3 separate regions of the Homo sapiens genome follow, and regions 2 and 3 are each linked to region 1. Evidence: fine-mapped expression QTL. A gene starts in region 1. Each other region holds a variant in brackets. All regions are shown on one strand. Distances are from middle to middle. Region 1 holds the start of XPO6 (exportin 6). Region 2 overlaps XPO6 (exportin 6). Region 3 overlaps XPO6 (exportin 6).

Region 1 (10,718 bases):
TGAGACGAAGTCCTGCTCCTGTCCCCAGGGTGGAGTGCAATGGCGTGATCTTGGCTCACTGCAACCTCCACCTCCCAGGTTCAAGCAATTCTCCTGCCTCAGCCTCCCAAGTAGCTGGGATTACAGGTGCCTGCCACCACGCACAGCTAATTTTTGTATTTTTAGTAAAGACGGGGTTTCACCATGTTGGCCAGGCTGGTCTCGAACTCCTGACCTCAGGTGATCTGCCCACCTTGGCCTCCCAAAGTGCTGGGATTACAGGCGTGAGCTACCATGCCCGGTTGAGCCTAGGAGTTTGAGACCACCCTAGGGAGACCCTCGTCTCCCTAGTCATTAAAAAAAAAAAAATTAGCTGGGCACAGTGACTGTAGTCCCAGCTACTCGGGAGGCTGAGGTGGGAGGATCACTCGAGCCCAGGAGTTTGAAGCTACGTCAGTTATGATTGAGCCACTGCACTCCAGCCTGGGCAACAGAGCAAGACCCTGTCTCAAAACCAACAAACAAATGAAAAAAAAAATGAGAGCTCGAGAGAGAGAGAGATGTTGGCCATTGAAAGAGCTACTCTGGAGCTTGGTGGCACATGTGACCCAAGATTAGCCAATCAGGGCATCACACTCCCCAGGCCATGGTGACTGGTTCAGGAGTGGGCATGTGACCCAATCAAAGACAAAGGGTTTATTTTTCTACGACATTTGTAGGAGATGCATATGCCCTTCTCTCCACCAGGCTTCAACCTGGAAGAAGGGAAAGCCTAGATATGCCAGGGCCCATGAGGATAAATGACCCCCAGTCAAGGAAGCAGAACCAACGAACAGAGAGAAACTGAATTCTGTGATATTCACACCCTGAATCCACCATATCTGAAATTCATCCAAACCTTTGGATGGCGTTTTACGAGACAATACATTCTTTTTTTCTTCTTCAACTGTTAAGAGTCCAAACTTTAGGGTCCCCACCTTGTTACTTGCAATGAAACGGACACAGTGGAAGACAGCTTGGAGTAGGAAAAGGACTGAAGACTGCAGCAGCCAGGTGAACTTCTATTCGTCCATCAAGACCCAACCCAAAGGTTACCATCTTTGTTGCTTCCTCCCCATTTCCTCGTACGCTTAGGAAGTTCATACACACCTCACAATGTGCTGTAATTATTTGGGTGGCTGTTGCTGACCCAGACAGTGGACAATTTGCCTGATTCTTATTCACTTTAAATACTTCATTTTTAGCAAAAGGCCTGGCACAAAGCTAATACTAACTCACTGAAAGTTTGTTGAATGAATAACTAAATGCAGGCGATCAAGGCAGTAGCAATAGAAATAGGCAGGCAGAGATGGCTGGGGGCCATCCCTGCAGTGCCAACTAAAAGTAATAGCAGCCTTAAATCTTTTTTTGGAATAAGACAGGCTTCAGATTAATATTAATAACAAAATGTTATTTAGTTTACTTGAACAAAATCCCTGGAGTCAAATTTATAATAGCTGTGACTTATCTCATGCCTCATGTGCCAGGTGTTTTATGTACATTAAATTAAATCTTCACCCCAGCCTGGCAATGGAGCTATGATGTGGTGACTCCACACATCCAGTTTATTCTGAGGAATTGAAAGCAACTCCAGGGGATTCTATAAGCCACTCATAGCAGTTCCACCCTCCTTCACTACGGCTAGATCCGGGGGACTAGGCCTAGGCCAATTAGGATCAGTAGGGAAAGCTTCTTGGCTTGAGAAAGGATGTGAGAAAGGTGCTCTCTCTTTTTTCTTTATTTTGAGATGGAGTCTCACTCTGTCACCCAGGCTGGAGTGCAGTGGTGCAATCTCGGCTCACTGCAACCTCTGCCTCCTGGGTTCAAGCAATTCTCCTGCCTCAGCCTCCTGAGTAGCTGGGACTACAGGCGCCTGCCACCATGCCCAGCTAATTTTTTTTTTTTTTTTTTTTGAGATGGAGTTTTGCTCTGGTTGCCCAGGCTGGAGTGCAATGGTGCAATCTCGGCTCACCACAACATCCGCCTCCCGGGTTCAAGCGATTCTCCTGCCTCAGCTTCCCAAGTAGCTAGGATTACAGGTATGCGCCACCACACCTGGCTAATTTTTTGTATTTTTAGTAGAGACGGGGTTTCTCCATATTGGCTAGGCTGGTCTCAAACTCTCGACCTTAGGTGATCCACCCACCTCGGCCTCCCAAAGTGCTGGGATTACAGGCATGAGCCACCATGCCCAGCCTCATTTTTGTATTTTTAAGTAGAGATGGGGTTTCACCAGTTGGCCAGGCTGGTCTCAAACTGCTGACCTCAAGCGATCCATCCACCTTGGCCTCCCAAAGTGTTGGGGATTACAGGTGTGAGCCACTGTGCCCGGCCAAAAGGTGCTCTCTTTTGCTGGATTTGAACAGGGAATTTTGTGGCCCTGGCTGTTCCTGGCAACCACCTTGACAACAAGTCTGATAATGGAGAAGAGCAGAGCAAGGAAGTCCTAGAGGAATGGCCGGGCGTGGTGGCTCATGCCTGTAATCCCAGCACTTTGGGAGGCCGGGGTGGGCAGATCACTTGAGCTCAGAAGTTGGAGACTAGCCTGGGCAACACAGTGAGACATTGTCTTTGCTGAAAAAAAAAAAATCAGCTGGGCATAGTGGCGCACACCTGTAGTCCCAGCTAACTGGGAGTTTAAGGTGAGAGGCTTGCTTGAGCTTGGGAGGTCGAGACTGCAGTGAGCTGTGATTGCGCCACTGCACTCTAGCATGGAGAACAGACTGAGACCCTGTCTCAAAAAAATAAAACAAAACAAAACAAACAAACAAACAAACAAACACACACAAAACCACACACAGAAAAAAAAGAAAATCCTAGAGGAATGGATCTAGGCCTCCCATCACACCCAGCCAAAAGCTAATGAATCTCTGGAAGTCCAGTTATGTAACCCAAAGGCATACCCTTAAGTGAGTCAGTTGCATTTCTGTTATCTCATTCAATTTTACAGTAAGGAAACCAAGACTTCGAGAGTCAATAACTCAAGATACCTTAGCTAGTGAAGTTAAGAGCTGGATTCCACTCCAAATGAGTCTCAACCCAAAGCTTTCACTCATCCTACTAAACTAAGCCAAGTAAGTGACTTGGCCTCCATTCCGATTCATCAGCTTACCTACTGAGATGGCTTCTCTTGTACATGCTGTTTCTACTGCCTGGAATGTTCTATGCCCCCTCTCTTTGCCTAGCAAACTCCTGCTTCTTTAAGGCCAAAGCTTAAAGAAATGTCACTTCCTGACTTCCTCCCCATCCTAATCTGCCAGATTATTTTAGATCCCTTGGCCTTATTAGCGTGTAAACTATATTAAAGTTATATCATGTTAGTTTCAATTTTTCCTTCATTGCTCTTATCACAATAACTGATCCATTATTGTACAATATTTTACAAATAATTTGTCTTTAAATTCCATAAGGGCACACATATATTTGTTTTGCTCAGCATTGAATCCTTGAAATAGTGACTGTCACTTAGTGGACAACAATAAAGATTTGATAAAATAAATGTGCTTGAGGCTGGGCATGGTGGCTCATGCCTGTAATCCCAGAACTTTGGGAGGTCGAGGTGGGCGCATCACTTGAGGTCAGGAGGTGAGACCATCCTGGCCAACATGGCGAAACCCCGTCTCTACTAAAAATACAAAAATAAATTTAGCTGGGTGTGGTGGCAGGTGCCTGTAATCCCAGCTACTTGGGAGGCTGAGGCAGGAGAATTGCTTGAACCTGGGAGGCAGAGGTTGCAGTGAGCCGAGATTGCACCATTGTACTCCAGCCTGGGCAACAAGAGCGAAACTCCCTCTCAAGAGAAAAAAAAATAGTGCTTGATGGCCTGGCGCGGTGGCTCATGCCTGTAATCTCAGCACTTTGGGAGGACGAGGCGGGTGGATCACCTGAGGTCGGGAGTTTGAGACCAGCCTGACCAACATGGTGAAACCCCGTCTCTACTGAAAATACAAAAAATTAGTTGGGTGCGGTGGTGGGCTCCTGTAATCCCAGCTACTTGGGAGGCTGAGGCAGGAGAATTGCTTGAACCCAGGAGGCGGACGTTGCGGTGAGCCGAGATCATGCCATTGCACTCCAGCCTGGGCAACAAGACCGAAACTCTGTCTCATTAAAAAAAAAAAAAAAGTGCTTGAGGCTGGGAGTTTGAGGCTGCAGTGAGCCATGATCATGTCACTGCAACAGAGTGAGACCCTTTCTCCAAAAACAAACAAACAAACAAACAAACAAAAAACTAAAAAACCCCTGAAAGCTATTGCTTTCAGTGGTAAAGTGTTGTATCAGTGGTTCTCCAAATGTGGTATCTAGACCTGCAGCATCAGCTTCATTTGGGAGCTTGTTAGAAATGCAAATTATTCAGCCCCATCTCAAACCTACTGGATGGGAAAGTCTATGAGTGGAGCGAGTAATCTTTGTTTTAACAGTCCTTCTGGGTGAATTGATTCAGATCACACTGAGGTTTGACAGGAAAGAAAAATAGCTCAGGGAAGTCTGAGTTATGTGAAGTATGCAAAATTTGTCAGGTCCACTGAGACTTGTGTATGGGAGTTCGGGCACACTCCCACCTCCACATGCTCGGGGACAATTGTTTAAAGATATTTTGTTCCAGACTAGCTGCCTCCCCCATTTCCTTCAGGTTCCTGAAATTTGTGATACAAAGAACAATGTATAGGCAATAGCTTATGTTATTTTTTCCCCCTTTCTCATCATTCCTATTCAACCTTATGTTATGCCTCTTTTTTCCTTAGAAACCCACTTGAAGCCAGGCGGGAGGGCTCACGCCTGTAATCCCAGCACTTTGGGAGGCCGAGGCTGGCGGATCACCTGAGGTCGGGAGTTCAAGACCAGCCTGGCCACTATGGTGAAACTCCGTTTCTACTAAAAATAAAAAAAATAGCCGGGCATCATGGTGGGTGCCTGTAGTCCCAGCTACTCGAGAGGCTGAGGCAGGATAATCGTTTGAACCCGGGAGGCGGAAGTTGCAGTGAGCTGAGATTGCACCATTGCACTCCAGCCTGGGCGACAAAGCGAGACTCCGTCTCAAACAACAACAACAACAAACTACACTCTAGTCTGGGCGACAGAGCAAGACCCTGTCTTAAAAACAAACAAACAAACAAGGAAACCCCATTTGTAACTGCCACTAATTGGACTATACTTCTGGTGGGCCATCTTCAAGCTTCGGGCTTGAATAAACCCTATACTTAAATACTATTTTCTCAATCTCGTTATTTAAGGTTGACAAGGGCCATTGGGTTACATAGATTTGCTCCAATCTATGTAGTAGGCACACCCGCGGGCTCAACCTCAGCTGTTTGGGATAGTTTCCTGACTGTTTCTTAAAATTAGCACTTTCAGCCTGGCTGGATGACTCATACCTGTAATCCCAGCACTTTGGAAGGCTGAGGCAGGAAAGCTGCTTGAGCCCAGGAGTTCCAGACCAGCCCAAGCATCAAAAGGAGGCCTCACCTCTGCAAAAAATAAAAAAATTTAGCTGGGCATGGTGGCGCACCAGGAGGTTGAGGCTGCAGTGAGCCATGATTGTGTTACCGCACTCCAGCCTGGGCAACAGAGCAAGAACCTGTCCCCAAAAATAAAACAAAATAAAGATGAGCACTTTCACGAGTAAAGTGGATTGGAGGATGGGAACAGGAATCCAACACATTCTCTGCCTCTCTCAGCACCTTGGCTATCGAAGTTACGTTTATCTCCCCTGTCCTAGCATCCACAGCAGGGCCTGGAATATAGTCGGGCAAGAGTGTGTGGACTGCATGAATGTAAGCTCCATAGGGCCGCGTGTCGTCACGCTGCCAGCTCGATGCTCCGCCCGTAAAAGGCACTCACTAAAATTTTAGCGGAATGAATGGGCGAAAAAAGCGAAAGGGAAACCACGCCTTTACTAAAATGGCAGCCCGGGCTCCCTTTACCAAGATGGCTGCCGGCCCGCGTGGACGCACGGGCGGTGGGCGCAGGGGGCGGGGCAAGAGAGGGCGTGGTAAGAAGGCGGGGCCAGTGGGAGCCGTCAGGTGCAGCCCCGCCCTCCGCCCTCCGCCCGCTCCCCCCGCTCGCCCCGCTCGATTCCGGATTGGTCCGGTTCCAGCGCCGCAGCCCGGCGGCCGCGCTGTGGGGCCGCCCGGCGCTCGCCACTTCCGGCGCGTTGGGGCTGTTGGTCGGGGGCGGCCGCGCGGTACTAGCGGGCGGCTCCAGGGCGGGCGCGCGCAAGGATGCTCTAGGGGGCGGCGGCAGTGGCCGTGTGGGTTGAGGCTGCGAGGACAGCGCGGGCCCCCGGGCCTCTCCCCTGAGCCGGCCGCCTGGGCCGCGCGGTCGAGGCCTGTCAGCCTCCGCCCGTTCAGCCTCGGGGCCGGGGCCGCCGCCACCTCTGCCCGCGGAGGCCGGGGAGCCCCTGCCTGGGCCCGCAGCCTCCCCCGCGGGGGTCGGGCCCGGGCGGGGGTCCCGAGCAGCTGCCCTCCTCGCCGGCATCCGAGCCTCATTTCCTGCTTTTTCAGTTTCCTTGGGGAGGGGCGGGTGGGTCTGGATGAATTGTCTCGGGGTCCCCCGATGAGGCGACCCGGGCGGCCCTGCCCTTTTTAGAGGGTCCCCTCGGGGCCCGGTGGGGAAGGGGTTGTCTTTGCATGGGTGGGGGACTTCCCGAGTCTGCCGGGACCATGACCTGAACTGTGCGAGCGGGACGTGTCCGAAGCCCAAGAACCAGCTCATCTGAGCCGCCCCCTCCCCGGCCAGCATGGTAAGTGGAATTGGAGCCCCCTTCCCTCCTGGGGTGCCCTACCGGAAGGGTGGGAATGGGCCCCGGGGCTGCTGAGCCATCGCTGCTCTCCCCATGGCGGGGAGAGGCGCGTGCGGAGCCTGGCCGGTGACACATGCGTGCAGAGTGTGCAGCCCCGGCCCTGCGCTCCCATCCCCCCAGGGATGATGGCTCAGGCCTGGGAGGGCCCTGGGAGCGCAGCAGGCACAACCCTTGCATCTGGTGTTTGCCTCCTGCAGCTCCTCCGGATAATAACTATCGTTTATTGAGGGCTTACTACTTGCCAAGGCCCTGCGCGAAGTGATTGACAGTGCAGTAGTATTTAATGATCACACCAGCCCTCTGTTCGGAAGTGGGGAGACTGAGGCACGGAGCAATTAATTCCCCAGCTCAAGGTCAAGCGACTTTTTAACAGTGTTAAGATTTGAACCTAGGCATCTGACTTTGAACCTAGGCATCTCTAATACACTTAGAGAGCTGGGTGATTGTAGGAGAAACATCTCATCTAGCTGTAGGTTTATATATGAGGAAACAGAGCGATTTACAGAGGTCACTTGCACAGGTGATGGCAAAGTCAGGAATGGTCGTGATCTTTTGACACTGAGGCTGCTATTCTACATGCTCTGATCTCTGCTGAAGCTACCTTCCACGTTTTCTAGACCGATACTTTCAATACTCCCCTAAATGTGTGTACTCACATCTCTTTGTGTATCCACATCTCCACGTTTTCTAGACCGATACTTTCAATACTCCCCTAAATGTGTGTACCCACATCTCTTTGTTAAGCATTTGCCTTTTTGCTCTTGTAATTATTTCTGAGCCTTATCTGTCTATTGCGGTATACACAGCTCCTTCAAAGACCAAATTGTTTGAACCCTTATCTGCTCCAGCTCCTGGCACATAGTAAGCCCTTGGTAAGTACTGGATCACCTAGCCTGTGGTTGAGCACCTCGAGGAGTGGAGCTGTTCTCCTCAGTTTCACCCATTTTACCCCTGCCAAGTTAGTGGTATAATAGAGAAAGGGACATAGCTGCATCTTTTGTGATACAGACCTTAAGGCCTGTGGAATTTTCGAAACATTCAAGGGGCCTGTGGGTAGTGTGTAGGTCCTGAGATATGGAGCTTACAACCAGCTGGGTAAAGTACACCATTAATGCTGAGCAGCACCGTACAGTATATGCTATACGTATAGTGTATGTGTTTTATTTTTATTTGTTTTGAGACAGGGTCTTGCTTTGTTTCCTAGGCTGGAGTGCAGTGGCACGTTCATGGCTCACTGCAGCCTCGACCTCCTGGGCTCAAGCAGTCCTCCCACCTTAGCCTCCCAAGTAGCTGGGGCTGCAGGCAAGTGCCACCATGCCTGGCTAATTTTTTGTGGAGATGAGGTCTCACCACGTTCCCCAGGCTGGTCTTGAACCTGAGCTCAAGTGATCCGTCCTCCTCAGCCTCCCAAAGTGCTGGGATTACAGGCGTGAGCCACCGTGCACAGCTGAGTCTATGTATTTTAACATATATATTACACAGTATGAATTGTGGCAAATCAGTTAAGCTCTCAGTTCCAATTTCCTCAACTATGAAATTTGGGGATAGGATTTCTCTAAAGAGTAATCTAGAGGTATGAGGTATAACATTTAGTGGCTAATGAAAGTAGCACTCATTCCTTCCTTCATTTATTCTTTCAGTAATGCTTTTTTTTTTTTTTTTTTTGAGATGGAGTTCAGCTGTTGTTGCCCAGGCTGGAGTGCAGTGGTGCAGTCTCAGCTCACGGCAACTTCTGCCTCCCGGGTTCAAGTGATTCTCCTGCCTCAGCCTCCCGAGTAGCTGGGATTATAGGCATGCGCCACCATGCCCGGCTAAATTTTGTATTTTTAGTAGAGATGGGGTTTCACCATGTTGGTCAGGCTGGTCTTGAATTCCTGACCTCAGGTGATCCACCCGCCTCGGCCTCCCAAAGTGCTGAGATTACATGCATGAGCCATCGCGCCCGGCCTCAATATACTTAAGTTTTGTTTTTTAATTGTAGTAAAATATACATAATTAAAATTAGCCATTTTAACCATTTTTAAGTGTACAGTTTAGTGAAATTAAGAACATTCACATTGTTGTGCAACGATCACCACCATATATCTCCAAAGGTTTTTTCCCAAAACAACCTGTACCCGTCTTTTTTCAGTCTCTCCCCTGCCCTACTTTAGTTTCTATTTCTATGAATTTGACTACTTTAGGTAGCTCATGTAAGTGGAGTCATGAAGTATTTGGCCTGTTGTGACTGCCTTATTTCACATGGCACAGTGTTCTCAAGCTTCATCCGTGTGGTGGCGTGTGTCAGAGCTTCCTTCCTTTTGAAAGCTGAATTCCATTGTGAGTATGTGCTGCATTTCATATATCCTTTCATCCTTCGGTGGATACCTGGGTTGCTTCCACCCTTTGGCTATTGTGAATAATACTGCTGTGAATATGGGTGTACAAATCTTACAAGTGAATTTTCAGTAGCCACCACCATATACCAGGGCCTAGGGCATGTACAGATGAACAAGACACACATTCCTCCCCTTGGGAAACTTACAGCATTGCTTTAGGACCCTTGGACAGAATTTTGTTATTGACTGAGCTAGCCCAGCACCCTTGTATTGAGGTTTCATTTTAATTGGCAGTCAGTAGAGCATCATGGGAATGACCACCTTTGAGTAATGAATTGTAAAGTAGTTGGCTTCATGAACTCCATGTGCATTTTTTCTGAGGTACGTTGCAAGTCAAAGTTTTTGTCACCTAGACCTCAGTTATTTAAGTACACAGGGGGTGGCCATAGTTGATGTGAATAGGATTGTCCTTTTTGTGTCACTGACACAGTGGTTCATCTGTAGGTATCCCAGGGTCAGGGGCTTGGGTAGGGTAGGCCCTGTCCCCCAAAGGTAAGGAAACTGTTGCCTGGCTGGTGTCTTACAGGCGGAGGGTCTTTTCCCTGGGATCCCAGCTCTTTATTCCAGGAAATTATTTCCTCTCCATTTCTTGCTGACTTAACATTTTTACTTTTAAGGGTATTAGTTGGCATAAGTTTGAGCCCTTTTAACATCTTCTTTTTAAATCTTCAACTCTAATAAGACTTGAAAGTGGCGTAATGTGATAAAAACTACCACTTATTAAGCATCTTTGATGTGCTAGCTATTCTTCACTCATTACTTGTTTTTTCTTTCTTTTTTTTGAGACGGAGTCTCGCTCTGTCACCCAGGCTGGAGTGTAGTGGCATGATCTTGGATCACTGCAACCTCTGCCTCCTGGATTCAAATGATTCTCCAGCCTCAGCCTCCTGAGTAGCTGGGATTACAGGCACGCCCAGCTAGTTTTTTTTTTTGTTTTGTATTTTTAGTAGAAATGGGGTTTCACCAGGTTGGCCAGGCTGGTCTCGAACTCCTGACCTCAGGTGATCCACTCGCCTTGGCCTCCCAAAGTTCTGGTATTATAGGCGTGAGCCACTGCGCCTGGCCAAGTTTTTCTCTTAGTCATTCAGTATCAGTAAACCCCACCAACTCTGCTAGGTTCCACTATGGCTGTTCCTGCCAGAGCGGGAGATGGACAGACCTGCTCTGTGATTCCTAGTTGACAAGTGGTGGAGTTGGCATTTAGACCCAAAGTGCTGTACTCCGGAGCCTGTGCTCTTTGGGTGCTGCCTCATGGGAAGGAAGATCAGGAGAGTCTTCCACCTGTATGTTGTTTGGCTTAGAGATAGATAGTGGTGGAGCATAGGGAGTATGGGGAATTTTGTTTACACTATCCCTGTTGACCTTCACATTTAGAACCAGTTTAAAAAGATTTATAGTTGCAGTATAGAATTACAGGAAGAGCTAGCATACTATAACTGTATTTGATTAAATCATTTTTTGTTGCATTCCCATGGATTCTTAAGTGGTGTGACATGTTAGAGGTTCCCACTACTTTGCTGAGA
Region 2 (10,718 bases), 58 kb after region 1:
GCATTTTACTTGATTTTTTTTTTTTTTTTTTTTTTTTTTTAAGACGGAGGCTTGCTCTGTTGCCCAGGCTGGAGTGCAGTGGTGCAATCTCTACTTACTGCAACCTCCACCTCCCGGGTTCAAGCAATTCTCCTGCCCCAGCCTCCCGAGTAGCTGGGATTATAGGCACGCACCACCACGCCCAGCTAATTTTTGTATTTTAGTAGAGACAGGGTTTCACCATGTTGGCCGGGCTTGTCTCGAATTCCTGACCTCAAGTGATTTGCCCGCCTTGGCCTCCCAAAGTGCTGGGATTACAGGCGTGAGCGACTGTGCCCGGCCAGGTTTTACCTAAACGTAACAAAAATTGTTAAACTTAAGGAATTGCTGACCTTGAGGTGCTTTTTCTACAAGAAATACTAATTTCTAAAAGATACCTTTATGGTTAAGAAAAAATGATAAAAATCAATTTTGTACTACATGTTTGAATTTTATGTATCACCTCCCCCCGCCACCATGTTTAATTTTAGACCATGTATTTTGAGACTTCTTCCTTGTGAAAGATGGGAAAGTTAGCTAGCGCACCCTCTTAATTCCTACGTCTGTTTAGTCTTGAGTCTCTATGTAATTTGATGCCAGTGTGTCCTTTTGCTACAGCTTCTCCATTCCTTAATTCTTTATTTTGATTTATCTCTTTATCTGTGTGGTTTCTTTGTCTGTTATCCTCCTTGAGAAGAATTTGTGGAGTTACCTGAGTTTTTGCGTGTTTGAGAGAATGTCCCCATGCTGTGAATGTTACTGTGGAGAAGTCTGACTGAGGTGTTTTCTCCTTTGTATCTGTACTTTTTCTGCCTACACTGCTTCCTCATTTTAAACATTCTTAGTATTGATCACTCTTCATCATTTTTTTCTTGGAACAGGATAAAACCCTTTCATGTTGTAGAGTCATGTCAAATTTCAGGAAATTTTTCTTCTTGTTATAGTTTTTTTTCTTCTTTTCTTTTTTCTTTTTTTAAAGACAGAGTCTTGCTCTGTCACCCAGGCTGGAGTGCAGTGGTAAAATCGTAGCTCACTGCAGCCTTGACCTCCCCGGGCTCAAGCGATCCTCCCACTTCAGCCTCCTGAGTAGCTGGGCCTATAGGCATGTGCCACCATGCTTGGCTAATTTTTGTATTTTTTGTAGAGACGGGGTGTCGCTATGTTGCCCAAGCTGGTTTTGAACTCCTGGGCTCAAGTGATCTGCCCGCCTCAGCCTACCGAAATGCTGGGATTACAGGTGTGAGCCACCGCTCCTGGCCTGTTGTTATAGTTTTAAATATTTTTCTTCTTTTGTCTTCTCTAAAATAATTTTATAGCTTTTTTTCCCCTGTTTCATTTTGTTTGATTTCCTTTAGTCTAGTGCTTTCAAAAATCAAGCAAGCATAAGAATCACTTGGAGTGCTTATAAGAACACAGATTCCTGGGCCCCAACCCCTTCAGGCTCTACTCCAGTAGGTGTGGGATGGGGCCTGATGATTTGTATTTCTGACAAGTTCCCTGATTACATTACTGGTCCAGGTCCACAGAGTAGCCCCGTGGTCCTCCAATTTTGGGTCTTGGGGTCCCTTGACTCTTAAAAAATTACTGAGGTCCTCAAAACACTTTGTAAGTTATATCTGCTGATAGAAAAACTGAGAAAAATGTACAAATAGTCATTAATTCATTTAAAAATATCTGTGATGAACCCATTACATATTAACAGATAATATGCTTTAATAAAAAATAACTATATTTTTCAAAGCAAACAGAAAAATTCACTGAGAAGAGTGGTGTTGTTTTACAGTTTTGCAAATCTCTAACATGTGGCTTAGTGAAAGGCAGCTTCTGCATTTCATCTGTTGCAATATCCCATGTGATGTAGCCTCTGGAAAGCTCCATTGTACACTTGGAGATAATGAAAGTGAAAAAGGAAAAGAACATCTTAGTATTCCTTTAAAAATAGTTTTGAATTTGTGGACTCCCTTCCCCGTAATCAACAGCCATTTTAATGTAGATAACCTCTGTCTTCTGTTTGGTAACATGTTCTTGTAAGAACTTACTGTTTTGTGTCCATGTATTTTAATATGTAAGTGGTATAGTAAAACTGTCATTCTGTTTCTTACTTTTAATTTAACTGTATCTTTTTAAGGTCTCTCCAAGCTGTTGCCCGTCTGTGCCTTAGTCCTCTACTTCTGCTCACTGTGTGATATGATACCTGACTCTGCATTCCCTATCCTCTCCCGCCAAGGAGGAGGCCAGACTGCCTCCAGCTCTCCCCCTCACGCCTGTCCCTTCATGGACCCGTGTGAGGGTTGCTTTGGGAGCATACCAGGAGAATGGTCAGGTGAAAGGATATGTGAATGTTTAATAGGACTCCAGAGTGCCAGGTCCTCCTCAGAATGGCCCTTCTTCCTGCACCGCCTTGTGAAGGTTCCTGCATCCATTCCTTGTACTTGACGTCTGGCATTTGCCAACATTTTTTCAGACTCCTTTTAATTTGCTTTTTCTGATTACTAATGAATTTGAAATCTCTTCATATGCTTTGGAGTTTCTTTCTCTGAAAATTGTCTCTCCATATCAACTGCCTGTTTTTGTACTGGGGTTGTTGTGTTTACTGATGTGTAGCATTTTAAAAATAGATTTTAGTTTTTAGTCCTTTTCGATGTTAGAAATTGTGAATATCTTCTCACAGTCTGTTGTCTGCCTGGTAACTTTCCCTTAATGTTTTTCATTGATTAGGAACTCTTTTTTTATTTTTATTTTTTATTTTTTGAGATGGAGTTTCGCTCTTGATGCCCAGGCTGGAGTGCAATGGCGTGATCTTAGCTCACTGCAACCTCCACCTCCTGGGTTCAAGCGATTCTCCTGCCTCAGCCTCCCAAGTAGCTGGGATTACAGGCATGCACCACCATGCCTGGCTAACTTTGTATTTTACTAGAGACAGGGTTTCACCATGTTGGTCAGGCTGGTCTTGAACTACTGACCTCAGGTAATCCACCCGCCTCGGCCTCCCAAAGTGCTGTGATTACAGGCATGAGCCACCGCGCCCAGCCTTGATTAGAAAATCTTAATTTTGTTATATTCCTCAGTATTTTTTGTTAAGGTTTTCTTTTTTGGTAGTTTTAAGGAGTCTTTTTCTCTCTTATATTTCAAATACTCTTATATTTTCTTCTGTTAACTTTAAAGTTTTATCTTTGGTTTAAGTCTTTACTTCATTTGGTGCCCAACTTTGTATGTGGTGTTAGGGATTTTTATTTGTTTATTTATTTAATGGTCATGTATCATGCTTTTCAAAAGCAAGGTCATGATTTGGGGGAACAGTAGCAAGAAAACAAAAACTTGAGTGGATTTGGGGTTTTGCAGCCAGAGAATAATCCCATCTTCTCTTCACTTATGTCTCCTGGGAAACTGCTGTTGTACAAATCTCACTAAAACTAAATTTGAGTCAAAACACTAAAGATTGTATCCAGATCCCCCTCACTAAGAATCATAATCAATTATCTTATTTTTGCTGTACTGTTAAAATTTCCTAATTAGTGTTTAACTTTGAGCATATAGATTTTATTTTTTTATTTCATAGGTAACTAAACTGATACATATATGTATACATATATATATATATTTTTTTGAAGGAGAATTACTTAAAGTCATTTGTAAGAGATTTGATGCTGGATAGCTTAAAAGCCTTTCTTATTTTCAGGTGACTTACTGAGTAACCTGTTGCAGAGTCCCAGTTCAGCCAAACTGTTGAATCAGCCAATTCCCATCCTTGATGTGGAGAGTGAGTATATCTGTTCCCTGGCTTTGGAGTGCCTGGCCCATCTCTTCAGTTGGATTCCTCTGTCTGCCAGCATCACCCCATCCCTCCTTACCACCATCTTCCACTTTGCACGATTTGGCTGTGACATCCGGGCCAGAAAGATGGCGTCAGTTAACGGCAGCAGCCAGAACTGTGTCTCGGGTCAGGAGCGCGGCCGGCTGGGGGTCCTGGCCATGTCCTGCATCAATGAACTCATGTCCAAGAACTGTGTGCCTATGGAATTTGAGGAGTATTTACTGCGTATGTTCCAGCAGACTTTCTACCTCCTGCAGAAAATCACCAAGGATAACAATGCCCACACAGTGAAGAGCAGGCTAGAAGAGCTCGATGAGAGGTAATGAAACCAAGTGTGGAGCTGGTGTGCCCCAAGAAAGGGCCCTGACTGTTTACCATGCTGTGCTGCATGGCATCTGTAATCCTCTTTGATTTCAGAATATGGGGCTCCTGGTGAGGAACAGAAAGGTAGGTGTGTGCCAGTAAGTCTGAGATTAGCTGGAAGGGCTTGGGTGGTTAAGGGAAGTGACTGAGTTTGAAAAATGCTTGTGCCTTGTGTAGGTTTGTTGTCTTTTCTCCCCATCCATCTCCTGTCCTCCCTTCTACTCCTCTTGCCC[C/G]CTTTTCCTTACTATTTGCTTGCAGGTCTGAGGTGGTGCAGGGACTGAGACTGCTGCTCCTGCGTAGCCAAGAACAGGAGAAGAGGTCCGTGGAGGTACAGGAGTTATAATCGCCTTTTGTCACTTGGTGTCAGTTTTTACTATTTGACTTTTCCCAAGTGAACATCCTGCAGTATTCAGGAATGTTGTTGTTATTGTGAGTTTTACACCAATGGCAAGTTTTCATCAAACTATAGGAGGGATGTTAATGTGTGCACAGGTTAATGTAGCACACAGCTGTGTTTCTTTGTTATTGTCCTCTCAAGTGGAGCCTACAATGACCTACTTTTTTTTTTTTTTAAAAGCACTCTAAAAGACGACTCCATCACAGTACTCTGAGGCAGGGTTTCATGATTTATGTCTCTTGCAGATGAGGTCATTTATGTATCTTACAACTGCTGCTGTATGAAAACAGGAGGGAATTTGGAAACTTATATTATGAACAATCAGATTGACGGTTTAGGGACTTTCAAGCAATAAATCGTATCGAATTAGTAAATATTTACAGATGACATGGCAGCAAAAGTTGCTAATATTCTCAGTTTTCCTTAGATTGTCCTTTGTTATTAAGCTATATAGAATTAAGCTATTTTCTTTTCCTTAGAGTAAATAGCAGAATATAAAATCAAGTGCATAAAGTTGAAAGTTGTAGTGCTTTTTAAATTGGGCAGTTTTGTAAAATATTTCTAAAATTAAAAAATTGGTACATAAGATTATTTTGGTTTGGTTTATTGTAAAACCGTGATGTTTGCTCTGTATAAGAACACAATCTGATATGGTAATATGTTCTTAAAAATTATTTGGTGATAGCTTTCCATATGAATTCAAAGGCATCATTATTCACACTTTCATATTCTTTCTGTCTGTGGTTAAGAAAGGCTGTATTACCTTTTTTTTAATGATCTGTGTGTCTCATGTCTATCTCTTCATATGTTAATTTAAAAATCTAGCTGCTTGTATCAACTATCAAATATCAGTTGTTTTGACTTTAATCATAATGTAGTCACAGACAACTTTGTTGTGGCTTCCATTTGGATGGTATAGAAATGTCATTATGGATTGTCTATGTACTGATGTTGTTACGTGTAACTTTTGTGCTCTTGGTTTTACATTTTAATCCTGTGCTTCCTATTGCCCTGTGAAAGCTGAGAGGTGCCTGGGAGCAGAAAGGTGACATAAATAATGCTGTGTGCTTGCTTCCTGGCTCTGGGTCCCCTACCACTAATTCTAAACAGCTCAGTCCATTCTCAGTTGTTTAGGAGCTGCTAACCAGATCCTTGGCTTCTCTTTCCCTCTACTGCCTTTTCCCCTAACTTTCTACTGTTCATTAGCACCTGTACCAGAAGGTGGGCAAGGGAAAGAAAATGAGGTGAAATAAAATCTGTAGTTTTAGCTACTGAACAGCCTTGTTTGTATTTTTAAAAAATTGGGTTAGATACTAAAGTAAAATTGAGATTGTTCTGTATTTAGCCCATGGCTTTTTTTTTTTTTTTTTTTTTTTTAAATGGGTAGTAGGGAATTGAGTGCACCTTCCTAAAGAACAGTCAGCTGGGTGGTGACTTTGAATATCCATGTAAAACTATCATGCGGTACATAAGTGAGTGAGGAAGGAGTTCCTACTCTTGAGTATTAGTGATTGATGACACCAGAGAGAAGTGTCTTTGTATGTTCCTGTCTCTAAAAACAGTTGATTTTAGTGCCTTACTGTTTTTCGAGTACTTGGCCCCATGATCCACAGAGACAGCCATTCTCTTTATCAAAACAAATTAATATGTATTTTTTAAAAAGCTGCAAATAAGCTCGGCCGCATAGAGGTCAGGCAGGCAGGCTGGCCACCCTCAGGGAGATAGGTCCCAGGAGCAACATGGGACATTTTATTTCCGGGCCAGTTTTGCTTTTCTGAGTAGTAGTTTTCTCTGCTTTTATTATTTCACATATCTCTGTTTTGAAAAATAGCTTTTGCAGTAATGAGCTTCAGAATTGCTTTTAGCCATTATTTCATTTTCAGCTAAGGCCTAGTATGTCTTTACCTTTTTGTGTTGGTCTCTGAAATGTGATTTATGAAGGTATGGCCATCTCATTTTCTAATCACCTTTTGGTATTTAGGGGCTTAAAATGACAGTTTCTGAAATGTGAGAGTGATGATGTGCTGTGTATTTAATAACAGAGATCTCTTATCCTTGCAGCTGTGACCCATACTCTTCTGTGAAATGATTTTGTGAATACAAATGAGTTGGGGATTCACTGTGAAGTGAAAAGAAAGAGCACTGGATTGGGAGTGGATGATAGTCCTGTTCTGCCATGAGTTGGCTGAGTGACTTTGGGCTGGTCACTTTACCTCTCTGGGCTTCATCTGCAAAACGGAAGCATCAGACTAAAGTCCCTGAGGCTTGCCCAGTTCTAATAGCCTTCCTCCCTTATATTTGAAATCACTTTTAGAGTATTGGGTTGTGCTGTGTTTAATTAGCACCAGGAACCAAAGGGGGAAAAATGGCCATTAAGTTGCAAGCCTGAGTACATCTTACCTGGATGCCATGCCCTTCGTAGCCTGGTTTTGTTTTTGTGTCTTTAGCACCATTCACTTTAGTATTTTGGCCTCCCGGAAAGAAAACCAGCCTTCTAGACTTGCCAGATTGAAATGACACAGTGATCTGCCCATCAACTTTTTATCATTTCCCTTCACTTTAATTGGGTCACAACACAAATGACTTAGAAAATGTGAGCGCACTAGATTATAAGAAGCCTTAGCAGACAGTGTCTGAGGATTAAAGTTGCTTTTCTGCTATGTTTCAGGTGGTTAATGGAATGAAGGGTTGCCTGTCCTGTAGGTAATTGTTGCAGGCCTTTATATTTTTAAAAGAAAATATATTACAAATTTGTATAGTTCTGTACTGAAAGAACTTTGGATTGAATTTAAGTTCTAAGGAGGTGGCTGGGTTTCTTATTGTCACCTTTTGTCTTGTCTCATTTAGCTATATCGAGAAGTTTACTGACTTTCTTCGGCTCTTTGTGAGTGTTCACCTAAGAAGAATCGAGTCTTACTCCCAGTTCCCTGTGGTGGAGTTTTTGACACTTTTGTTCAAGTACACATTTCATCAGGTAAAGCACCAAAGTCATCCTTCCCTTCCAGAGAAAAGGTTTATTACCTTGTTACTTTGAGAAGAAAGAACTTTTTCTTTCAACTTTATTTTCCAAACATTAATATAATGCTTATTATGTGAAGAGTCACAGGTTTAATCTTCCTAACATCCCTGTGAAGTAGGTTCTATTACCATTGTCATCTCTGTTTTGCAGGTAAAGAGACTGAGGCACAAAGAGTAACTTGCTTAGAGTCATACAGTTAGTAAGTGGTGGAGCTGGGATCTGAACCCAGAGTCAGGGCTCTTGACCACTATTATGTGAACAAAGCAAAAGAAAGGAAAAGTCTGAAATTACGGCCTTTAGTTCTGTTCTGTAACTGCCACTGAAACCTCCTTCAAGAAGATTATATATAGTGAAGCTCTCAAGAGTTAAGTTTTGGTAGTGTCCAAGTTTTTCTCCCCCTCACAAATATTTTTTGAGCTCCTATTGTATTCCAGGATTTAGACATACAACCTTCACAAGCAGTCTTTGCCTGCATTGAGTTTACTTACATTCTAGTGACCCTAGTCATTCTAGTATGTGTGTGTACACACACACACACATAAAAAATATATAAAATTATATATGTGGCTTTATTGAGGTATAATTTTATATACCATGAAATTCACTCATTGTAATTGTATAACTCAGTGATGTTCAGTGAATTCATGGAGCTGTCCAAACATCACCACAGTACAATTTTAGATATTTCTATCACATCCTATCCCCCGTGCCTGTTGGTGTGTGTTTTATCTTAGTTTTTAAAGTTTTTGGTAGACATTGGGTCTTGCTATGTTGACGAGGCTGACTTTGAACACCTGGCCTCAAGTGAGCCTCCTGTCTGGGCCTCCTGAAGTGCCAGTGTTACAGGCGTGAGCTACCGTGCCCAGCTGTGTGTTTTTAAAATAAGCTTTTTATTGAAGTATGACACACATACAGAAAAGTGCATAAATCTTAGGTGTAGTTAGATGAGTTTTCCCCAAATTGACATATGCATGTAACCATCACCTAAGTCAAGAAGTACATTGTTGCCAGCAACCAGGAAATCTCCTCATGTCCTTTCCAATCACTTCCCCTCGTTTCTCCCCAGAAGTAACCCCAGGCCTGACCTTAATACCACAGACTAGTTTCGCCTGTTTTAGAGCTTCTCTGAATGAAAGCACATAATGTATGTTTTATCTGTGTTTTTATTGGCCATCGTGTTTGTGAGCTTCGTTTGCGTTGTGTGTGGCAGTCATGTGTTGATTTTCGTTGTGCTGTTGTTAAGTCATTGTTTGCAAGTTCACTCCCCTGCTGATTTGGCTGCTTCCAGTGCTTACTGATCTTGCAGTGAACATTCTTGTACGTGCTTTTGGATGTACACAGATAGCTGTTTTAGTTGATATGTACCAGGGATGAAACTAATGGGTCACTGAGGACATTTGATTTTAGAAGTAGCCTTTTTTTTTTTTTTTTTTTAACCACTAGTGTTGTAGCTTAATGTGTCTAGAGGAAAGGCAAGGGTCTAGGCTAGGAGGGTTGTGTATATGACTTGGAGCAGGGGTTTGTTGGGAAAGCTGTCCTTTCTCAAGGAAGATCTTGGCATGTGAAAATAGAAGAGGACCCAGTGGTAAGGATGAGCCAGTCCTGGGAGCAGGGGAGGGAAGGCCAAAACTTGAAGAAGCTCAGAGGTGTCAGGTAGAGGGGCAAGTGCGTGCAGAGCATGAGGAGAGCCGTGCCGAGGTCATAGTCCTCAGGAGAACTTGAAGTGACTGCAGGAGGGTGAGGATGTAGGGGAGAAGCATCAGAGGTGGAACAGTTTTGGGACATCCAGAGGAATTTTAAAGGAGACCATGAAAAAAGAGGATTTGAGAGAATGTTGAGTGAGTGTTAAATAGCGTAACAGAAATGAGGGAGCTGAGGAGCCAGTTCTGAGGCCAGAAACAGGAGGCTTACTTGGGGGAGATGGAATGACAATGTCTTGACATTTCACTCTCTATGTAAAATGGGGTCTTCTGGTGTGTATAGTATAGAAGAAAGTGAAACATCTTTTAAAGTAGGCATGTCTTATGCCTGATTCTTTGGATTGGACCCAAAAGTTTTGTGTTTGAGGTCTGCTTATTTCTATTAGTTCTGTGTCCTTGGAGAAACCTTAAATTTACTTAGATTTCAGTTTCCTCACCTAAGAAAATAGACTGCAGTGGACATCTTCAGGCCTTTCCCCTGGCTTATTTTTTATGATTCTTTCAGTAGACTCCTATGTGTCATCGAATTGAAAATGGTGGTTTTATATATTTATATATTATATTTATATATTGGGAAAGTAATTGGGGAAAAAGTATGCTCATGAAGCAAACCACAAGCTTCTTTCCTCCTCTCTGTACCTGGAATCGTCAGATGAGCTCCTTTCTGCTCTCCTGTCTCCTGTATGAGGACCTTCCTTTCTGGGAGCAGGCTGGCCACCTGTGGGAGTAGGTATGTCTTTGACGTCCAGACAGAATCAGATTCTGAGCATTAGGTAGAGGGACAGGAACCTGAAAGGTACACTGTCCCAGCTTACTGTGGGTAAACCAGGGCAGACAGCCCTTTGCTGGGGAGGTAGAATGGTGAAAAGGTGGCAAGGTGCACTCTAGGACCAAGGCCTGCTTATAGGGGAGGTCTTTGGAATAAGACTTAAGAATAAGAAATTAAATGATCTCAAGAGACAGCTTTAAGTTCTCATCTGTTCACTAACAAGTATGATCTTACTCTCTCATAGCTTTATTACCTGTAATGTGGGAAAATGTGTCTTTCTCTCGTCTAGAGGGTTATATAAATATATTTAATATTCTTGCCTGTTGTTTCTAAAATTCACAAATTTTAGTACAGTCGTGTGTTGCGTCCCTTAATTGACAGGGATGTGTTCTGATGAATGTGTTAGGTGATGTCATCGTTGTGTGTACATCATAGAGTGCACTTACGCAAGCCTAGATGGGAGAGTCCATCACACAAGTAGGCTAGGTGGTGTAGGCCACAAACCTGTGCAGTGTGTTACTGTGTAGAGTACTACTCTACTATTCTACTGTGTAGAATACTGTAGGCAGCTGTAACACAAGGGTAGGGATTTGTATCTAAACATAGAAAAGGTAGAATAAAAATACAGGGGTTATCTT
Region 3 (10,718 bases), 70 kb after region 1:
CAGGAATGGATGTGAAAGGTGGTGCTTCAGGTTATACAGGGTGTGTCTGCTCACCTTTCCCCCAGCCTTGAGCATATAGCAAGTCCTCAATTCACATGCATGAAGTTTATATGTATAATTATAAAGTACTTTGACGGAGCCATAATACTTGGATTTATGTGGTAACCTTTCCCAAAGGCACTTCCATATGCATCTGATGAGCTGTGCTCTTTTGAGGGGGCTAGTGGATAGTTTTGAACCAAGGAGGGATAACCTTGGTGATTGACTTGAGGGAAGCTCAGCAAGTTGAACCTAGGACAAGAGTGTGTCTCTTGGATGGGCAAGTCTAGTGGCCTGTCCAAGGACTACTCATATCATTTCTTCTTTTTTTTTGAGACAGGGTCTTGCTCTGTTGTCCAGGCTGGAGTGCAGTGGCACGATCTCAGCTCACTGCAACCTCCGCCTCCTGGATTCAAGCGATTTTCCTGTTAAGCCTCCCGAGTAGCTGGGATCACAGGCGTGCATCGCCATGCTCGGCTAATTTTTGTATTTTTAGTAGAGAAAGGGTTTACACCATGTTGGCCAGGGTGGTCTCAAACTCCTGACCTCAAGAGATCCACCCGCCTGGGCCTCCCAAAGTGTTGGGATTACAGATGTGAGCCACTCGGTCTGGCTGCCGTATCATTTCCATGTGGCTTATTCATTGTTTTTCCTGGTTATTCTCCTGGTTCACTTCATGTCGTGGATATTGTCAGTATTGCCAAGTATGAGGTAGAGACAGGACTTGGTCATTTTGTTTTCTGAGGTTGGTCCTGTCTAGTTCCAGAGCTACCCTTTGGGTCGTGAAGTTGGAATTTGCCTGGCTTTTTAAGTTACACTCTTTTCTTTTTTCTTTCTTTTTCTTCCTTTCCTTTCCTATTTTAATTTTTTTTCTAAAATATACACACCGAGTCTCACTATGTTGCCCAGGCTGGTCTCGAACTCCTGGTCTCAAGCAGTCCACCTGCCGTGGCCTCTCATAATGCTGGAATTACAGGCATGAGCCACCACGCCCAGCCAAGTTACACTTATTCTGTCTCAGACTTCAGCTTAGGTACAGAACTCCCACTGGATACCACCACCCATTGTTAGTTATTTCTTGGGCACCTCCATGTATGCCCTTGTAAACGTCTAGATTTCCATGTGGATCAGCAATGGAAAGAAACTGATCCAAGAAGGTCATGTTATTATTTATTTTCATATTTGATCTTGTCACCAAATATGTGGTCCAGTGAGACAGCCACCAGCAAAACCAAAGGAGTCTTTCAGGTAGTGAGCATTTGAGTGGAGATATCAGGGTTTGGAGCCACAAGTTGAACCTGAATGCATAGGGGAAGGAGTAGCTGTTGGAGATTGTGTTGCCTGGACTTTGCATGAAATAGAGTCTCAGAGCCCTTGAGAAAGTTAACTAGTGCAGTGGTCTTCATTGTACTACTAGGATCCTACAAAGACTTCTCACTTTGTTCCTCCACATCAGCACCTGGTTGGAGGTTGCTATTAGCACGTTTGACACCCTTGCTTTTGCAAATGGGATAATGCCCTGAGGGTCAGACTTAATGAGCTCATTTTCAGTCTGTTCTGTAGGAAGACTGCAAGTGTTACTTTCCTTACATTCAAATGTGTGAACCTGTCACCTTTGGAGCCACTGAAACTGATTTTTGCTTTCGTAATGGTTTGTAATGGAAAGAGCATTGGCTGGGGGTAAAGGGACTTGTTTTTACCTCTGGCCTTGAACAACTTATATCTCTGAATCTCGATTTCTCTCTGGAAAATAGATTTAAACTAGATGATCTGTAAGAGCCCTCTCTACCAGTCTCAGATTTTAAGATAGGTTTTTGCTTGACTTATTTTATAACTCAGTTTATGCTGCACAGTATCTCCCTCATGATGTGTTCCATGGTACCCTTGTCTTGTAAGGTTCAGGAGGGCCCAATGGTATAGACCGACTAAAAGCCACCAGTTTTGGTTACCAGGAAACTGGGGAATCTAGGCTTATGATTTCATCATTCTGCTGGAATTAAACACTGGCATGTGTGTGTTTCTAAGGAATAGTAGCATTAAATAATTTCATTGTCTGGATTTTTTTTGTACCATAGCCTACTCATGAAGGTTACTTCTCTTGTTTGGATATCTGGACGCTGTTTTTGGACTATCTGACAAGTAAAATTAAAAGTCGTCTTGGAGACAAGGAAGCAGTTCTCAACAGGTAAACTCCTCAAACACTGAAAACTAGATATGGTCATTTTGCCAGTTATTCTAGTGGCCTAAGAGACAGCCATGCATTTGGACCTTTTCAGTGAAGCTGAGTCATGTAAGCTGTTTAGGCAATAATGCCATTGAGCATTTCCTTTTTTTTCTCCTTTAAGTATTTTGTTAAGACTTTTTAAAATTTTAAAAGTAATATGTATTACTAATTTTTTATATTTTAGTGCATTTGTGTTAATGTTCTTAATTTTTTAATAGCCCTTATTTTAGAGATACAAACTGAAGTATTTATTGGATAAAATGATATGACATCTGGGATTTGCTTAAATAACCCAGTGGGGGTAGAAGGGAAGTGGGTTCCTGTAGAGAAGAAACAGGCTGCCCATGTGTTGGTGATTGATGTTGGAGTTAGTTCCTAGGAACTTGGGGTTCATTATGTTCTTACCCCATTTGTATGTGTTTGAAAATTTCCTAAATAAATTAATAAATACCTGTTAAGAAAAAGGTGTTCATTTTTAAATCTAGGAAAAGATATAGGAAAATGTAAGGAAGATAAACATAATCCCACACCCCAGAGATAATTGCTTTTGCACTTTTTGTTGTATTTTTAAAAAACAGAGAATGCGGAATGGTTTGTTTCCCCCCCCATATGTTTCTCAAACCCATTTTTCTTGCTTGCAGGAAGAGAGTATATTTCCTGTACAATATGTTCTTTGTGCCACAGGGTGGGGAGAAGAGGAGGGGAAGGTGGAGATTCAGCATGCCAGGAAAATAATGGCAGCATCCATATATGGGGAAAGTAAATGTGGCAGCTTTTCTTAGCAGAAACATACCCATCATAGTCTCAGTAGGTGACTGCATCCCAGTCACACAGTGAGCAGGCAGTCATGAAGGAGGCAAAGAAGCTATATTTTGCATTTTAGGATCAGAGTAGTTTCCTAATAAACTAAAACTGATTCGTGTAATTTGTATATTTATGCTATGAGATTACAAACTAGGTGATCTAGCCCTAAGTACTTTATCATACTTAACAGAGTGCCTGCAGATTTTACTCAGTTTGGTTATAGCTCCTACTTCTTTGCACAGTATTTATAAGAGCAATTTCAGATTAGGTGGTCATTGTGTTGTAAAACCAGTGCATGAGGGGGTTCTGTCGAGTGGAAGCCATGACGGGGAATCGCACAGACCTATGTTTGGATCCTGGTTTTGTAGTTCCTACCTAGGGGTACTTGGGTAAGGTACTTAGCCTGTGGAAGCTTCTGTTTCCTCATTTGTAAAATGAGGATGAAAATAATAGTTGTTGAGACATTAATTGAAATAACGAACTAACATATTTAGAATGCTTGGCACACTGCAAGTGTTCACCTGGTGGTGGTGTTAGTGAATACTCTTTCCCCATAAATGTACCAAATGGAGGAAGGTGGAGAGGAGAGACTCCACTGCAGAGAAAAGGTTGGGCTGGAACTCCAAAGGCTTTTCCATTGCTGAGGTTTTATGAGTTTAAAAAATTCTAAACAGGACCTAGATGTGGTAGTATGTACCTGTAGTCTCAGCCACATGGGAGGCTGAGGCAGAAGAATCGCTGGAGCTCAGGAGTTCAGAACTGTTGTGTGCAGTGATCACGCTGTGGCTGGCCACTGCTCTCCAGGCTGGGAACATAGTGAGACTCCTTGTGTCTCTTGGTACCAGTCACTGGTACCATTTGCTGAACTCTGTCTCTATTGAAAATTAAAATAAATAAATATGCAAATATTCTGTTGAGAATTTTATTTTCCAAGTTTAAACATTTGTTCTTTTGTTCCCAAAGATGGTTTTTGTAATTGTGGAATAAGTTCCAGGTTGCTATGGTGTCAGGTCACATGTGTGATTATAGGTAGTACGTTCATATATCAGAAATCGTATTACACACAGGAGATCCTGTTTTTGGTGAAGTTGCCAACTTTAAGTAATTATGTTTTTGAAATGAGATTCTTGAAGGAAAAGTTACTTTTGCCAAAATAATCTTTCTTGCATGCTAAATAGGCATATCTTTTTGGTTCTGGGACTATGCCTCATTTTTCTATATTTAGTGGTAGATATTCCTTCATATCTCTCAAGCTTGTTGTGAGAATAAACTGAGGAAATGATTAATATGAAAATGCTTTTTAAAAAACAGTACAAGGCCGAGTGCGGTGGCTCCTGCCTGTAATCCCAGCGCTTTAGGAGGCCAAGGCAGGGGGACCACGAGGTCAGGAGTTCAAGACCAGCCTGGCTGAGAAGGTGAAACCCTGTCTCTACTAAAAACACAAAAATTAGCTGGGCGTGGTGGCAGGCATCTGTAATCCCAGCTACTTGGGAGGCTGAGGCAGGAGAATCTCCTGAACCCGGGTGGCAGAGGTTGCAGTGAGCCAAGATCATACCACTGGACTCCAGCCTAGGCGACAGAATGAGACTGTTTAAAAAAACAAAAACAAAGTACAAATGAGAGATGTGAAGAATATGGTCCTGTTGAGAAAATATATACTAGCAGATTATTAGTATTAAACACACACTTTTGCAGATCATTATACTAATAGAGCAGTGGTATAGAGAATTTAAATTCTTTTTTTGCTTTAGGCTAGCCGTGTTACTTTTGGTCAAGTTATATGCTGATCACATTTCCTCTTGCAAAATGGACGTACTTAACACTTCTCTTGCAGGATGGTTAGGATTCAAGGAAATCATGTATGTAAAATACCTGGCACAGCATCTAGATGTATTAGGCACTCAGTAAATGGTCACAGTGATGACAACAGCAATGATGAATAATAGAAGATGTTACTGCCTTTAGACTGTGGTTGTGACTGTAGCGTTAGGTGGCATGGCCCCTGGACAGTCTAAAGGCCTTTAGCCCACCTGCAGATGTTTACCTGCCTGCCCTGGCATCTGTTGTCTAATGTCACAGTTGTCAGTTGTTCTGGCTGACCACTTGAAACAGTGGGAATTTTTCTCATTGATCATGTGATTATCATCCTAAATGAGGCTTTTTAATTTTTCATGATTTATTCTTTTTTAAACATAACACTTTCATATAATGCCTTTATGCCTTTGAAAAATAAAACAACAGGCCAAGTGCCATTGCTCATTCTTGTAATCCCAGCACTTTGGGAGACTGAGGCAGGAGGATCACTTGAGGGCAGGAGTTTGAGACCAGCCCGGCCTACATAATGAGACCCTGTCTCTACAAAAACTTAAAAAACAAATTAGCCAGACATGGTAGTGTGCACGTGTAGTTCCAGCTCCTTGTGGGGACCAAGGTGGGAGGATCACTTGAGCCCAGGAGTTTGAGACCAGCCTGGGCAACATAGCAAGACTCTGTCTGTACAAAAAATACAAAAATTATCCAGGCATGGTGGTGCATGCCTGTAGTCCCGGCTACTCAGGAGGCTGAAGCAGGAGGACTGCTTAAGCCCAGGAGTTGGAGGCCACAGTGAGCTATGATCATGCCATTGCACTCCAGCCTGGGCGACAGAGCAAGACTCTGTCTCTAAAATAAAATAAAACAACAACAACAACAAAAACCCCTCCAAGCTCCTCTGGTTAGTGCTGTTAAATAGTAACCACCGTCTGGGGAACTGCATGTCCTGTCAGATACCCCTTAGTGGTCTAAGACAGTAGACTACAAAGAACATGTGTTAGTCCAGTGGGCTGCACAAAGAAAATATTTCAACTTCAGCTTATAATTTTTTCTGTAACCCTTAACATTCACCACTCCAGACTATGAGAGACTCTTAATATATCAGAGATATGCTGTTTTGCAGGAGCAGCTGCTGAAGAACACTGGCTTCTGGTGATGACCACATTTATGTTAACT[A/G]AGAGCATGCACATGTGATCAAATGTTTGTCAACTGATAAAATATACCAGAGAGAAGTTGGGATGTTCTGGAATCATATTTCAGAAGCAACTAATCTTGCAGGAAGTAGTCAAAAATGTTTTCTTGCTGTCTTAAATGGGAAATGTAGGTGTGGTTAAGTCACAAAGGCAGCACTCATTTCCTGTCCCCTGTGGTTTAAAGGTTTTGCATCATTCATCACAACAAAGTGGTAAGCATTGTAGGCTACAAATTTAGAAGCACAAATATACATAGATTTATTTTTGGTCCTAGGAGCTTGGAAATTGGAGCTCTGCATGCTCACTTGCCTGGTCAGGAGCGCAGTGGCGCGATCTTGGCTCGCTGCAAGCTCCGCCTCCTGGGTTTACACCATTCTCCTGCCTCAGCCTTCCGAGTAGCTGGGACTACAGGTGCCCGCCACCACGCCCGGCTAATTTTTTGTATTTTTATTAGAGACGGGGTTTCACCGTGTTAGCCAGGGTGGTCTCGATCTCCTGACCTCATGATCCACCCGCCTCGGCCTCCCAAAGTGCTGGGATTACAGGTGTGAGAGGAATTTCTTGATGAGAGACTGTGGGGACTTGAGAGAGCCTGAGCCCCAGTGTTAATGGGGTAAATGTTCTGTAGCCATTCCTGCAGAGTGGAATGGCCGATGGGGTAGATCATCCTGATCTGTATTTTGAGGTGGTGGCATGGAAAGGCCCGGATTTTCCTTTCCCTTTCCTTGTTTGTGCTTTTGGATGGTTGTGCCTTCCTCACAGATTGTTGAGAAAGTGGGATGAACTAATGAGCGTAAAGTGCCTTGGCTGACAGTAGGTGCTCAGCAAATAAGCATTGGTTCACCTCCCCTTTCTCTCTCACTTCCGGCTCTTTGTGCTTGTCAATGTGAAGGGAGTCACCTGTGTAGAAACTTATTTTTACAGGAAGGTGAAGAAACCTGAGTGTGTGAAGCAACCTAAAGTCATTGTGTCATGTTCTGTGAGCCTCTTTGTGACTAGACTTCTGGCAAGTGCTGGCCACAAACCAACGTAGGGATTCTGGTGACATTAGATAGGACTGTAAACAAATGTGAGTGAGGGTGAGAAAAACTGCTCCTTGCTTTTTGGAGTGGGTGAACCTGCTTAATAAAGAGGAAGTGCCACTGTTACACATGACATTGTGGTGCAATAAAGGTGTGAACTAGGTTTAGATCAGAGCTCTAGCAGCTTTCTAGTTCTTGCTCTTGACTGCCCCACAGGGCAAGTGAATAGAGTCTTAGTTGCTTTATTGAGTTGAAAAAGCTATCCAGGAATATGCTTCAATCCTTTGTATTTACCTGACTTGGAATTTTGTCTGTTTATCACCTGTGTGTTTTTCATTCATTTCTTTGTTCATTTGTTCTTTATTCATATATATTTTATTGAGCACCTACTATGTAGTTGCCTTAACATGTATAATTTTATTTAACTCTCAGAACTTGAGGCTTATAGGCTTATCTCTGTGGTGTATATAAGCATTTAATGCTGTAAATTTCCTTCTAAGCCCTGCTTTAGCTTTATCCCTCAAAAAAAATTTTTTTTTTTTTTTTTGAGACGGGGTCTCACTCTGTCACCAGGCTGGAGTGCAGTGGCGTGATCTTGGCTCACTGCAACCTCTGCTTCCCGGGTTCAAGCAATTCTCCTGCCCCAGCCTCCCGAGTAGCTGGGATTACAGGCACAAACCACCACACTCAGCTAATTTTTGTATTTTCAGTAGAGACAGGGTTTCACCATGTTGGTCAGGTTGGTCTCAATCTCATGACCTTGTGATCCGCCCGCCTTGGCCTCCCAAAGTGCTGGGATTACAGGCGTGAGCCACCACGCCCGGCTATCCTTCAAATTTTAATGTTACATTTTAATTTTCATTTGATTTAAAATATTTTCTAATTTCTTTGGAGATTTCCTGTTTAGTTTCCGAATATTTGGGGATTTTCCATATACCTTTTTGTTATTGTTTTCTAGTTTAATTTGTACATGTCTTTTTTTTTTTTTTTTTGAGATGGGGTCTTGCTCTGTCACCCAGGCTGGAGTGCAATGGTGTGATCTCGGCTCACTGCAACCTCCACCTCCCAGGTTCAAGCGATTCTCCTGCCTCAGCCTCCCAAGTAGCTGGGATTACAGGTGCCCGCCACCACGCCTGGCTAATTTTTGTATTTTTAGTAGAGACAGGGTTTTGCCACGTTGGCCAGGCTGGTCTGGAACTCCTGACCTCAGGTGATCCGCCTGCCTTGGCCTCCCAAAGTGCTGGGATTACAGGCGTGAGCCACTGCGCCCAGCCTGTACATGTTGTCTTTATCCTACTTATTCTATCAGTTACTGAGAGGGGGGTGAATTCTCCAAAAATAATTTTGGATTTGTCTGTCTCCTTTTAGTTTGATCAGTTTTTGCTTCATTTATTTTGAGACTCTGTTAGTTGCATACACATTTAGTTTTCTTTTCCAGTGTGTCTATTGAGTGTTGGACCACATTTCTTTATGTGGGTTTTTTTGGTGGTTGCTCTGGGTATTACAGTATATATACTTAACTTTTCAGAGTCACATTTTACCACAAGGGTGGTATGGAAACCTTACCACCATATAGATTAGAGTCCTTTAGCCTCTCTTCTTTATATTGAGGTTTTACATATACATACTTGGAAAACCCCACCAGACAGTGTTCTAATTTATACACGTACCCATCATTCATATTTTATAGCTCTTAAGAAGAAAGAAGTAGTCTATTAGATTTACCCAGACATTGCCATTTCTCTTGCTTTTCCTTCCTTCTTGAAGTTCCAGGTTTCTTTCTCATATTGTTTACCTTCTCTATTAGTTAGATTGGGCTACCATAACAAAATACCACAGGCTGGCCTTAAACAACAGAAATTTATTTTCTCTTAGTTTTGGAGTCTAGAAGTTCCACTTCAAGATGCTGGCAGATTCTGTTTCTGTGAGCTCTCTTGGTAGCTTGCAGATGGCGCCTTCTCTCTGAATGCTCACGTGGCCTTTCTTGTGTGCATGTGAGGAAAGGGAGGGAGAGAACCCTTGTGTCTCTTCATCTTCTCATAAGGGCAACAGTCCTATTGGATTAAGGCCCTACTCTTTGACCTCACATAACTTTATTACCTTTTTATAGGCCCTGTCTTCAAATACAGACACATTGAGGGTTAGGCTTCAATATATGAATGAGTACTTTTTGGGGGAAGAGTCGCACAATTCAGACCATAGAGGAACCTCATGGAGCATTGTTATTATAGCTGTTTTAGAGTCATCGATAATTCCAACACCTTTGTCATCTTGAGGTTGGCATCTGTCGATTGTCTTCTCCTTGAGAAGTTGTGTCTCTTTGAGTAGCAAGTAATTTTTTGAATCCTCTTACTTATTTGTTCTACCATTAGGCGTGGCTTCCCTCTCCATCATCATCTTATGGTCAGAGATGGATGCTGGATGATGCTACAGACATCATACCCATGATTCAGGCAGTAGGAACGAGAAGTGGGATAGGTTGGGCAAAAGAAGCTTTCTTAGAAGTCCCACCCAGTAGCTGCTTTTAGGCTCTCGTTGACCGCCCCCATCTTCAGGGGAGATGTTGTCCTTGAGTTGGCCTCAATACCCAGTGCTCTCTTGCTGAGGAAGGAGAATGGGTATTGGGCAGGCAACCAGAGTGTCTGCCACAGCCATATACTTTCTCCACCTCCCACATGACACTTTGGGAGATCAGTGATCTATGTGCATGTTTGCCTGGTTCCTACTTGGACTTAATTTTCTAAGCGATACGGGTTTTTTTTGCAGCCAGAGTTGCCAATTGCCAGTTAAGATTTTAGGTCTAATTTAGGGTTACATTTGCATAGAAAGTCTCTAAATTTCCTTTTAGCACAGCAAGACAATTTATAGATGACAAAATTCATCTGTCCTCTGGTCTGAAGTAGATTTTCTTTCCTAGGAGAATTGTGGAAATATTTTGATCTGTCACAGCAATTTATAGTGTGGAACTTCTGTAACTTTAGAAATTTATGTCTTGAACAAAGGCAAAAACATAAACTCTAGGCCTAAATGTTTGATCTTACCTTTCTATGGAGTTTACTAAGTGGGATTTTGACTTTATTGGGTGAATTTTCCCACAGACGTTGCAGATTTTATTAGTGCCTTTTTCCCTGCCGGCATTCTTTCCTGGGCCCTGTTCAGTTGCTAGTCTACTTTAGGGCTGGCGTGTGTTAGGTTGTTAAGTCGTTTGCATACAGTTGGGGAGTCATTGCTGGATATGGGCAAGTAGGGAGTGTCTCTGTCTCTAGTTAAGAAACGAGCTGTCGGGAGCTAAATAGTGGGTGCTCGTGGACATAGGATGGCAACAACAGACACTGGAGACTGATAGAGAGGGAGTGGGGAGGAGGGCAGGGGCTGAAAAGCTATTGGGTACTATGCTCAGTGCCTGGGTGAGGAGATCAGTTATACCTCAAACCTCAGCATCACGCAGTATACTCCGGTAACCAGTCTGTACATGTATCCCCTGAATCTAACATAAAAGTTGAAATTATGTTAAAAAATAAGTAAATAAATACAAATGTCAATTTTGGCATAGGTTAAATTTTTAAGTTAAAAAAAAAAAAGATACTCTGGTCACCAAAATCTGAAATGGGACAATCCAGGAGG

Evidence for each region.
Region 2: its variant is fine-mapped to the expression of XPO6 in whole blood (TOPMed, PIP above 0.99). The same link has a PIP of 0.9 or more in breast, esophagus mucosa, pancreas, skeletal muscle, subcutaneous fat and sun-exposed skin.
Region 3: its variant is fine-mapped to the expression of XPO6 in whole blood (TOPMed, PIP 0.99).

The regions. Positions count from the first base shown.
Region 1 is chr16:28,207,405-28,218,122 of GRCh38, reverse strand. XPO6 (exportin 6) reads left to right here and starts at 6,158. Exons shown (of 24, transcript NM_015171.4): 1 at 6,158-6,757. The coding sequence starts at 6,755. RefSeq lists silencers at 5,921-6,410, 8,921-9,215 and an enhancer at 6,040-7,038.
Region 2 is chr16:28,149,507-28,160,224 of GRCh38, reverse strand. It overlaps XPO6 (exportin 6), which reads left to right. Exons shown (of 24, transcript NM_015171.4): 7 at 3,698-4,151; 8 at 7,440-7,566. Among named protein-coding and RNA genes, the nearest start is that of XPO6, 57 kb to the left of the region's middle. The variant C/G (reference allele first, on the strand shown) is at 4,429.
Region 3 is chr16:28,137,600-28,148,317 of GRCh38, reverse strand. It overlaps XPO6 (exportin 6), which reads left to right. Exons shown (of 24, transcript NM_015171.4): 9 at 2,115-2,224. Among named protein-coding and RNA genes, the nearest start is that of XPO6, 69 kb to the left of the region's middle. RefSeq lists enhancers at 1,234-1,749, 6,643-6,692. The variant A/G (reference allele first, on the strand shown) is at 6,056.